3 linked regions of the Homo sapiens genome follow. The protein of the gene in region 3 interacts with the protein of the main gene of each other region in a biochemical or structural test. Each region holds a gene or a part of one and is shown on either strand. Other genes may lie near its edges. The genes, in order: ECE1, MEP1A and KNG1.

Region 1 (3,600 bases), on a different chromosome or scaffold from region 3:
GGCAACTAAGCGTCCATTCATCCTAAGCTCGCCTTTGGGAAGAGTTGTGTGCCAGTTCACCAAGTGGCCCCAAGATTCTCCCAAATACTTCCCTTGGTCTACCTGGCAGAAGTCCTCCGAGAATTGGGGTGCCCCAGCTCCTCTTTCTACACTGGCTTCTCAAGAGCCAGATCACTGGGTCTCCTAGGGTGTCCGCAGCGTTTCCAGCACCTTCCCACGCACCTGGCTGGCTCCAAACCCCTCCAGCACTGAGGTCTTGGCCACAACTGTCCCAGTGCAGCCCCCCAGGGACGGGAGGGCAGAAAGCAGCCTTGCTCAATGTCCTGTTACAAGGCAGGGACGGGGGTGGGGCCCTCCCCAGGAGTGGGCAGATGGGATGCCCACGGGCGGAGACCCTGGGGAGGGGAGGAATTGGACTTCCTTAGTAGGCTGGAAAAGGGGCAGGGAGAGGGGGCAGAGAACAGGTTTCTGGCCCCAGGAAACTCAGGTATTGGGAGGGCAAGAGGAAGAGGGTGGTACTGCCTCCCGGATAAGGTGACCAACTTTCCCAGTTTGCCCCGGACTGGGGGAGTGGGTTCCAGGGATGCAGGGCTTTCCACGCTAAAACAGAAACAGCCGTAGACTCTGCCGGTAAAGGGCCTGGGCAAGTCCCGGGACATGCACAAACTGTGCCTTCTGTGGAAAGGGAACTGGACCAGTTCGGGTCTCGGGGGTGCTTTCAACTCTGCCACCTGGGCTGTGGCCCCAGAAGCAGGTGGCCGGGAGGCTCTAGGGATGGCGGGGGCAGGTGAGGGGAGACTGGTGGGCTCCGGAAGGCTTCTCAGCGCGGAGCTCCAGCTGCGGGGAGGCGCGGCCCCTCCCGGATGCCGGGACGAGGGAGGGGAAGGGAGGGGAAGAGGCGGGGTAGGTAGGGGCGGGGGGCGCGGCAGCGGCAGCGCGCATGCCCGGGCCCGGGGCGCCTGGACCTCGGGAGGGAGCGGAGGGCGCCTACCTGCAGGCCGTTGGGGTATGCGTCGCCCTCGGAGAGCGAGTCCACCAGGTCCTCCTCGTCCAGCGTGGCCCGCTTGTACGTCGACATCTGCAAGGCCAAATGCAGCACGGACTCCCTCAGCGCCTCCATGGCTCTCGCGCCCGAATGGGGAAGCGGCCCCGACCCTGGCGCCGCCGCCGCCGCGCCCCGCCCCGGCCTGGACACCCGAGACCGAGACCGGCCCACGGAGCGGCCCGCGCGGGGAGGGGTCCCGCCCGCCTCCCGCCCCCGCCCTCCAGGCCGCGCCCGCCTCACCCCCAGCGCCGACAGCAGGGCGGACACCGGGGGCGGCCACACGCCCCGCATGCTGTGCCCCAGACGCCTGGTCCCGCTGCCCGGGTGGCCGGGATGGGATGGGCCGGGCCAGGCGTTGCACCACCTTCGCGGGCGGGGCCTGATCGGTTCGCCGGCGCCCGGTTCCCAACCTCCGGCCTCCCGGGGAGACCCCAAGACCCGAGAGGCCCGGGGGAGATGGGGACCCCTCCCTTCCCCGGAGGTCGGGAGTGGGGGCCCCCAAACTGAAGCCCCTAGCAGGCAGGAAAGGCCCTCACAGTGACCCCTCCTTCGAGAAAATCTTAAGTCCCCCTTCAACAACCGGGTCCCCAGTGGCAGATAACAAAAGTATCAGGAAGGTGCCCTCGATGTGGCCCAGAGCAATCAAGACAGGTTCCCCCCGGCATCAGCCCTTAGGTGTGTCTAGGGGGTTAATGCTAGAAAGACCAGACAAAAAAGGTGGGGTAAAAAGGTAGGTGTCCCCTTTCAGTTCCCCTTTCTAGCTCAGAGGCCTTTAAGCCAGAGTTCGTGAATGAGTTTCAGAAAATTTCAGAGAACTCCCTGACACGGGATGAAAGGAGCTGTGTGTGTGCATTTGGATGGCTGCAGGGTGGTCCGGTGGTCACCCCCGTGCTCAAAGGTGTCGCCCTCCCTGCAACACAAGAGAACCATTGCTCCAGGGGGAGTCAGAAGCCAGGAAGGGGACCCTTCTTTCCCATCTTCCCCCTCAAGACTCGGAGCCTCAGCCAGGTGCCCCCCTCCCCAGCCCCTGAGCCCTCTCCTATAACCCTAGGCAGGGAAAGGGGGCTCTCTCGGATATGAGGTGTTCAGTTAGGGACTCAGGCCCAGCACTGTCCCAACCAAGAACCCCAGAGAGGTCTAACCCAGCAGATTTCCAAAGGACTCTCCGCTTCTAGCAAGGCGGGAATCCCTGCATTTATGCGTACTTTTCAGCTTTGCAAAGTGCATTTCTGCTCATTCCAAATTTGATTCTCACAGTCACACATATGTGTGAATAAACAGGTTTAGAGGGGTGAGGGGCCTGACGTCACAGGGACAGTGAGGGCAATGGCTCCAGATGGTCTCCTGGCTTCCACTCCTGCCCTCTGACAGCCCCCTCAGCAGCCAGGATGAGCCTTTAAAATGAAATCTGGCTGAGGCCAGGCACCATGGCTCGCTCGCGCCTGTAATCCCAACACTTTGGGAGGCCAAGTTGGGTAGATCACTTGAGGTCAGGAGTTCAAGACCAGCCTGGCCAACATGATGAAACCCCATCTCTACTAAAAATACAAAAAATCAGCTGGGCCTGGTGGCATGCATCTGTAATCCTAGCTACTCAGGAGGCTGAGGCAGAAGAATCGCTTGAACCCAGGAGGTCGAGGTTGCAGTGAGCTGAGATTGTGCCACTGTACTCTAGCCTGGGTGACAGAGTGAGACTCCATCTCAAACAAACAAACCACAGAAATCTGGCTGGGTTCAGTGGTTCACACCTGTAATCCCAGCACTTTGGGAGGCTGAGGCAGGAGATCACTTGAGTCTAATTCTAGGCCAGCCTGGGCAACACGGACCCCATCTCTACAAAAAGAAAATATATATATATATATTTATATATTATATATTTTTAATTAGCAGGACGTGGTGGTATGCGCCTGTAGTCCCAGCTACTTGGGAGGCTTAGGTGGGAGAATCGCTTGAAGCCAGGAGGTGGCGGCTACAGTGAGCTGTGATTGCACCACTGCACTCCAGCGTGGACGACACAACAAGATCTTGTCTGAGTAAATAAATAAAATAAAAAAAAATTCTGATATTACCACTCCCTTGCTTAAAAACCCTCCACTGTCCTGGAATGAAATCCAAACCCTTCACCAGGCCCCATGGCCCCTGCCCACTCTGGGCCCTCATCTTGTGCTGCCAGCGCCCCCTCCCCCACCAACCTCCTCACACAACTCCTCAGTTTCTACAAGTTTCTTCTTCCCCCAAGACCTTTGTAGCTGCTGTTGTCTCTATCTGGAACATTTTTTCCTCCTCTCTACTCTTCCCATGGTCAGCTCCAACTTCAGATCTCAGCCTACCAGCTCCTCAAATGTCCCAGGAACCCTAAGCAGTCCCCCAAATTCTCTGTTACAGCATCCTGTTTGTTTTCCTTTACAGTACTTGTTGCAGACTGTTTTGTTTCCATGTCTTTATCATCACTGTCTCTGTCCCTCTCCAGAATCCACAGCTTTACTGGGGCTGGGACCTTGTCTGGCCTGTCCAACAGAGACTCTCCATCACCCGGCACAGAGTAGGTGCTCAAC
Region 2 (3,826 bases), on a different chromosome or scaffold from region 3:
GAAAAGTGGCTTTGAATCCAGCTGATTCCCACAGTATTAGCTACTTTTATTTTAAAGTAATCCAGTCACATTTTTATTTATTGAATTTGCAAAATGAAGCATAAAATTAGCATGGATAGGCTGATGGAAACTAAATTGAAATCAGTGAACGGTTACCTCTGATAAAATTATCAAAAAGATGACACTAAAATTTCAGTTTCTTTCAAGGACAATTAAAATAAAGATGTGAGTCCTTGACCAATTGAATAAAATGTGATTCTCCTACAACACATTGTTTTAACCTCATCCCCACCCTCCGTGTGTGCTTTAAAAATCAGGATAAAATCAGTAGAGTGCCAAGAGCATAGGATTATTTACTCAGGAAGACCAACAAAAGTACCTTCAAAGTCCACAAATATGATGAGGTCATCATTTTTCAGGAAACTCCTCCTTTTCAGCATTTGGTGGGAAATGAAACCACTCCAGCCCAAGTCGATGCTTCTAAAACAATTACAGTCCGTATGATAGGTTCCCACCCTGGACGGCCTGTCCCAGATGACAGTGTCATTTATCGCTGCAAAGTTGTAGGTAACATAAAATCACATTACCTCTTTAGACTTCACTTTCCAGTTTGTCTTTAATGAGGATACAGGGCTTTGTGAATCAGAAATAAATAAATAAATAAATAAATAAATAAATAAATAAATAAATAAATATAAAAATAAAAAAAGTGTTGGAAAAAAATTAGGCTATTTACTATTTCCAGGAGAATTGCAATTCAGAATTGAAAGATGGGAGAGGCAGAGAATCACAGCTCTGAGTGATCAGTTGTCTGCTACTGAGCGACTTTCTTAATGAAAAGAGAGGGACAGCTACGGCTTCTTTCTTCTAAGGCTTAAGTCTTCTCTTTTGAAAAAAAAAAAAATTAGTGCCAGGCGTGGTGGCTCACGCCTGTAATCCTAGCACTTTGGGAGGCCAAAGCGGGTGGATTGCCTGAGCTCAGGAGTTCAAGACCAGCCTGGGCAACACGGTGAAACCCCATCTCTACTCGGGAGTCTGAGACAGAAGAATTGTTTGAACCTGGGAGGTGGAGGTTGCAGTGAGCCGAGAATGCGCCATTACATTGCAGCCTGGGCGACAGAGGGAGACTCCATCTCAAAAAAAAAAAAAAAATAGTTTGCCCATTTCTTTACTGATGTAAGTTTACTTCATGAACATAGTAACATTGAGTACTATTTTAGGAGTAAGTACATTAGCTCTGCACAGAGCCCAGCAAGTTCCAAGTATTTGATAAATGATTAGCAGTATCTATTTCCTCAATCACAACGAGCTCAGTGAGGCAGGGATCACCTGATTCACTTGTATTCTAAGTACCTAGCACCGACTTTGGCACATGGTAAGCCCTCAATAGATGTTTGATGAGTGAATTTAGGAAAGGGAAGGAGGATGTGATGGCATTGAAAATCTTGACTTGAAACTCCAACAAGACTATGTTATTGGTATTCCCAAACAGACAATGTGAGGAGAACGTTACTCTTTCTTGCACCACAGAATCACATCTGTGGGCCTCTCTGGTTCAAGGGGCAGTTCTTATTTGCGCTGACACCACCCACCTGGAGATGTGTGCGACTTCGAGGTAGTGAACACCATGCTTGAGGACATCCTGTTCCGGACATCAGGCTCCTGGTCAAGGATGGTAATTATCACCTGTCTGTTTTCTACCGGCCACTCCAGGATAGCATCGTTCTCCCCACTGCACACATGAAAAGCAAGTCTCAAGTAACCAGAGCTTTCTCTGCTATTTGGGTATAAAGTTACCCCAAAACCATATCCCTCCGAATTGTAGAATCGAGGGCTCTGAAGCTTGTCCCCTTTGCTGGTGTTCTCAAGGACTTGGGAGAAATTCCGGACTGTCCAGACCCCTGTGGGGCAGGGGGTTTCTGTCAGAGTGATGTCATCTAGGTAAATTCCCCCAGTTGAGTTCTGAGGGTCGCCTTTTGTGCCCTGGAAAAGGTAGCGAAACTTCTGTTCCTCTTTGAGCACCACATGGGCAATTTTCCAATTGTGGTCATCATCTCCTGAGGACAGAGAACAAGGCTGGTGAGAACTGTGACCAACACTTAATGAGTACTTATTATGAGTTTGGCACAGTGCCATGTGCTTTCCATAAATTATCTCATTAAATCCTCACAACAGCCCTATAAAATAGGTACTGTTATAAACTGGTTAAGTAACTTTTCCAAAGTTACATACCTAATAAGGAAAAATTGTTTTTTAAAATACTATGATTTATTTTAAAATTCACATTCAAATCTTAACCGTGAATTTGTTTTCCACTATAAGAATCCAGGTTCTGGATTTCCTCCTGAGTTGGCTGGTTCAACTGTAACCCCTAAGGTTAGCAAAGAAAACCCAAGTGTTAGGCTGAATCATATAAAATAGCCATTTTCTAAGCCAAAAGTAAAAAAAATAGTAACTCCATATGGTCCGACCTGTCACTTGTTGCCAGAGAGCTATAAGGAATGCTGAAGAGCAGATAATAACCTGTAGGACTGACTGGATCTTCCCTACCTAAAACTGACTCCCTCTCCAACATCTAGACTTTTTTCTCTTCCTTATATTATCTGAAAGTCCACCATGTAGGGGAGCAAAGTAAGCCAAATAGAGTACTATTGTCTGGAAATGCACGTTCTAATAAAGATTAGGTCTACTTGCTTTTTCTCTGAGCATGAACTAGAAGTGGGACTTTCGAATTAAGAGCTGAGGAAAGATGGTGAGAAGGCCGTTCTAGAACATAGGATCCTGGGTTGAACAGTATAAGAAGCCAGACAGGAGCTTGGGGGTACTGGAGAGAGGAAACTGCGAAAGCAAAGCAACTCAATTCCGCAAAGAGATGTGCCTACACTGATATTTTTGCACAGGGTATTCCCTAGAGTTGGGCTTGAAGAGGAGAGGAAAAATGCTTCCAAGTGGAAGTCATGTTGGCTAAACTGAGTTCCTACAGATGAGTGTCTTTTTTCCTTCTTCTGTGTCTTTTAACCAGATATCTACTTATAGAACTATACTTTCCCTGAAAAGGAAAAGACCTTTAATCTCCCTTGTGTTTTCAGGCCATTCTCTCTAAGTACAACTTCAAGGGACAGGTCTAACAATGTTCTGTTTCTTAGGGTGGAGCTGATTATGGCCTGTGTGGTTAGGTTACATGGGAACACAGGAGAGAGGTAGGTTACATGGGAACACAGGAGAGAGGTAGAGAAGGCACACGACCACCTCTGTAACATACAAATCTAGGCAGCTGCCCTCTCCTGCGGAGAGCATGGCAGCCTAGTGGAAGACACATGGACTTGAAGGGTAATAGGTGCCAGAAAGTCTAGGAATAGGAACAGAGATATAGGATTTGAACTATTTATCCAGCAGGTTATAGATCATGGGAATTCTGTCAAGAGAATAGGATTCTGTTCTTGCTGATTAGTACCTGCTTTGTTTTTTCTTAATATAGGATGTCAAAATGAGGTTGAGATGGGGGAATCTGGCACTGGGAAGGAGACCCAAGAGGCTATACCACATAGGCAGAAATTCATCTATGAAATTATTAAGATGGTTTCGTTTACATGCTTCCACAGGGCTGCCCTAAATCAGTCAGGCAATAATGCTACTACGATTGTTTGAGACAAATTTAATCCCTGTTAGTTCAGAATTGTCTTCTATAAGGAAGTCCTGGCCTCAGTAAAAACGTGTGTGTGTGCATGTGTGTGTACATACACATAGTTGTATGCCAACATTTTTCATGTAAGTTTGTATATAAGCATTATGTATGTAACATATATTATATACAGATATGCATATG
Region 3 (3,826 bases):
TTTTAATCTCTAGCAACAGTTTTAATCACTACTCAACACTATCTTCCATTAAATATTTTGTGGCCCAATTTCTCAACCAAATTATTTAGTATTAAATCATAGTATTTAAATGTGTTGGCCGGGAATAGTGGCTCCTGCCTGTAATTCCAGCACTTTGGGGGCCTGAGGCGGGCAGATCACCTGAGGTCAGGGGTTCGAGACCGTCCTGGCTAACATATAATGAATCCCTGTCTCTATTAAAAATACTAAAAATTAGCCGGACATGGTTGCAAGCATCTCTAATCCCGGCTACTTGGGAGGCTGAGGCAGGAGAATCGCTTGAACCTGGGTGGCAGAGGTTACAGTGAGCCAAGATCACGCCACTACACTCAAGCCTGGGTGACAGAGTGAGACTCTGTTTCGGGAAACAAAACAAAACAAAAACAAACAAACAAAAAACAACTAAACAAATAAATAAATATTCACCAAAACCCAGGATGAGGAAGGCCTTTCTTAGGTGAAAAGCAGAGGAAAGAAATCTGAAGGAAGGGGAAAATACTAAAACTTGACTAGAGAAAAATGAAAACTGCTTCTGAAAAATCACAATAAGCAAAGTAGAAAGGCAAGCTGGGAAAACTATGATATAGAATCAATGTCTGTATGAATATAAAGCCCAACACTAAAAATGGACAAAAGCCATGAGCAGGTATTTCAGAGAAGTTAAAACGGTCATTAAGCCTAAAAAAAAGTTTAACTTCATTAATAAACAAAAACATGCACATTAAAAAAGCAATGAGACATCATTGTTAGCCTTCCATGCAGGCAAAGATGAAAACAAAAATTGATGATACGTGGCATTGGCCAGGCATAGGAATCAAGCAGCCTCAGTCACTGCTGGTAGGAAGAGAATTCAAATTAAGATCCTCAACTGGTGTCTTTTTTCTTTTATTTTTTGAGACGGAGTCTCACTCTGTCACCCAGGCTGGAGTGCAGTGACACACACTGCAACCTCCGCCTCCTAAATTCAAGTGATTCTCCTGCCTCAGCGCCCCCAAGTAGCTGAGATTACGGGCAAGTGTCACCACACCTGGCTAATTTTTGTGTTTTTTGTAGAGATGAGGTTTCACCATGTTGGCTGGGCTGGTCCCAAACTCCTGACCTCAGGTGATCCGCCCGCCTCGGCCCCCCAAAGTGCTGGGATTACAGGCATGAGCTACCACGCCTGGCCTCAACTGGTGTCTTATACCCAGGTGATGTGAATGTAAATTGGCATCATTGCAAATATTTGGTGATTCTGGCAATTTGCATCAAGTCTTATATATCTACATATTATTTGACATTCCTAGGACTTTGTCAAAGGAAAAATTTCTGCATGTGCACACACAGATCTTGGAAGTTTATTCATCTCAGCAGAGGCAGACAGGAGCATCAACAGCCTTGGGGACAGCAGCAGTGGTGGTAGGGCAAAATAAAACTTATATGAAACTGTAATCACTAATGTGTGAAAATGGAAGATTCAGGAAGTGTTTCATATCTGAAATATGAACCCAACGTGGAATCAACATGCATCCAAACAGGACTAAATGTGCAAACCCAAGGCAAGATTAAAACTATAAATATTTAGCAATTTGGCAAATTGGTCATTTTGGAGACTAGCTTTTAGCAAATTCATCATATGTTTAATTGATTTCCAGTAAATTGGCTGCTTCCATCAAGGCTGCCTTGGGTGACTATGTCCAAGCAACCAAATTGCTCTCTTTAAATGCAAAAATTAGTAAAGATTTATCTCTCTAAAGTAAGTTTGAAATTCTTGCAATATTCAGATTGACTTGGCAGCTATCTGATGGGTTACCTCTTTGTGTCCCCCTGACATCCTTAATGTAGACACATATGCATACTAGAATGTTGATTCATTAATCCACAGAGAAAACTGTAACTACTAAGAAGACTAGATATTCATGCTTGAGAATGAGTGGTTCTGTTTTTGATGGCAAACCTCTGACATACAATACATGGTGGCCTATTCCTACAACATTCAGAATAAAGAATAAGGGAGCTGGGTGCATTGGTGTGCGCCTGTAATCCCAGCTACTTGGGAGGTTGAGATGGGCACATTGCTTGCTCCCAGGAGTTCGAGTCCAGCCTGGGCATCATAGTGAGACCCCCATCTCTCTCTCTTTTTGTTTGCTCTGTTGCCCAAAGGGTCTTGTTCTATCACCTAGGCTAGAGTGCAGTGGCACGATCACAGCTCACTGCAGTCTCGACCTCCCAGTCTCAAGCAATCCTCCTACTTCAGCTTCCCAAAGTAGTTGGGACTACAAGCACATACCACCATACCCAGCTAATTTTTTAATTCTTTTTTTTTTTTATTATTTTTTGAGATGGAGTTTCACTCTTGTCACCCAGGCTGGAGTGCAATGGCATGATCTTTGCTCACTGCAACCTCCGCCTCCCGAGTTTAAGTGATTCTCCTGCCTCAGCCTCCCGAGTAGCTGGGATTATAGGCACCCACCACCACACCCAGCTGATTTTTGTATTTTTAGTAGAGATGGTTTTTCACCATGTTGGTCAGGCTGGTCTCGAACTCCTGACCTCAGGTGATCCACCTGCCTCGGCCTCCCAAAGTGCTGGGATTACAGGCATGAGCCACCACGCCTGGCCTTTAATTCTTTTTTTGTAGAGACAGGGTCTTGCTATGTTGCTCCAGCTGGTCTCGCTCCTGGGCTCAAGTGATCCTCCTGTCTCTGCCTCCCAAAGTACTGGGATCACAGGCATGAGCTACCATGTCTGGCCCGCGTCTCTCTTAAAAAACAACAACGAAAAAAGAATAAAATAATTTCACAAGAAAGCAGAAATATAAAGTGAGAAGTTAAAGCTGAAAAAAGCATGAATAGCATAGATTGGCGTCCCTTTCAAGTAAACCTAACGTGGTCATATGGCAATGAAATCAGAGAGAGAGGGTGGTTGTGTCTGGGATAGAAACAAGTGCTCAAGTAGCAGAGAGATCAAAGTATCAGTTTTGATTTACTTTAATCTAGTTTGTTTACTTTTTTTCAGTTACAAAAGTAATACAGAAAATTAGAAAGATTAAAGTAGTGTTATTCCATCACCTAAAAATCACCACTATGACTATGAGGCATTCGTTTTTTTGTTTGTTTCCAGGTGGAGTCTGACTCTGTCGCCCAGGCTGAAGTGCAGTGGCACAATCTCGGCTCACTGCAACCTCCGCCTCCCGGGTCCAAGCCATTCTTGTGCCTTAGCCTCCTGAGTAGCTGGGATTGAAGGTGTGCACCACTACACCCTGCTAATTTTGGAATTTTTATTAGGTTGGTGCAAAAGTAATTGTGATTTTGCCATTACTTTGGCAAAAACCACAACTACTTTTGCACCAACCTAATATTATAGATGGGGTTTCACCATGTTGCCCAGGCTGGTCTCAAACTCCTGACCTCAAGCAATCCACCCACTTCGGCCTCCCAAAGTGCTGGGATTACAGGCGTGAGCCACTTTTTTTTCCCACATTATTTTCTGTACTTTAAAATAACACAACTGATAACATCATGTATATTCAATTTTATGCCTCCTTTTTTTCACTGAATATTATAACACAAGACATTCCCCATATCAAGAGCTCCGCACAAAGATGCTTTTAAGTTGCTGCTTAACACTCTATTCTGAGGATATGCCAGACATGATCTAATCATTCTCATATTAATCATTTTGACAGTTTACTATTTTTGCTGTTATACTTAAAACTGCAGTGAATATCATTGTATATAAAGACTCCTACTTTAGATTCCTAGAAATTCAATTCTGAGCCAAAAGTATGAACTTTTTAGTGAGAATT

Evidence for each region.
Region 1: of the proteins of KNG1 (region 3) and ECE1, one has a biochemical effect on the other in vitro, tested with the Homo sapiens proteins (one study listed by BioGRID).
Region 2: of the proteins of KNG1 (region 3) and MEP1A, one has a biochemical effect on the other in vitro, tested with the Homo sapiens proteins (one study listed by BioGRID).

What each region holds. Positions count from the first base shown.
Region 1 is NC_000001.11:21,289,079-21,292,678, forward strand, and holds the start of ECE1 (endothelin-converting enzyme 1), read right to left. Parts: upstream 1,386-3,600; 5' UTR 1,337-1,385; coding exon 1,286-1,336; intron 1,138-1,285; exon of another isoform or gene 1,121-1,137; coding exon of another isoform or gene 1,079-1,120; coding exon 992-1,078; intron 1-991. UniProt on the Homo sapiens protein: Converts big endothelin-1 to endothelin-1.
Region 2 is NC_000006.12:46,831,305-46,835,130, reverse strand, and holds part of MEP1A (meprin A subunit alpha precursor), read right to left. Parts: intron 2,058-3,826; coding exon 1,593-2,057; intron 554-1,592; coding exon 380-553; intron 1-379.
Region 3 is NC_000003.12:186,734,150-186,737,975, reverse strand, and holds part of KNG1 (kininogen-1 isoform 1 precursor), read right to left. Parts: intron 1-3,826. UniProt on the Homo sapiens protein: Kininogens are inhibitors of thiol proteases.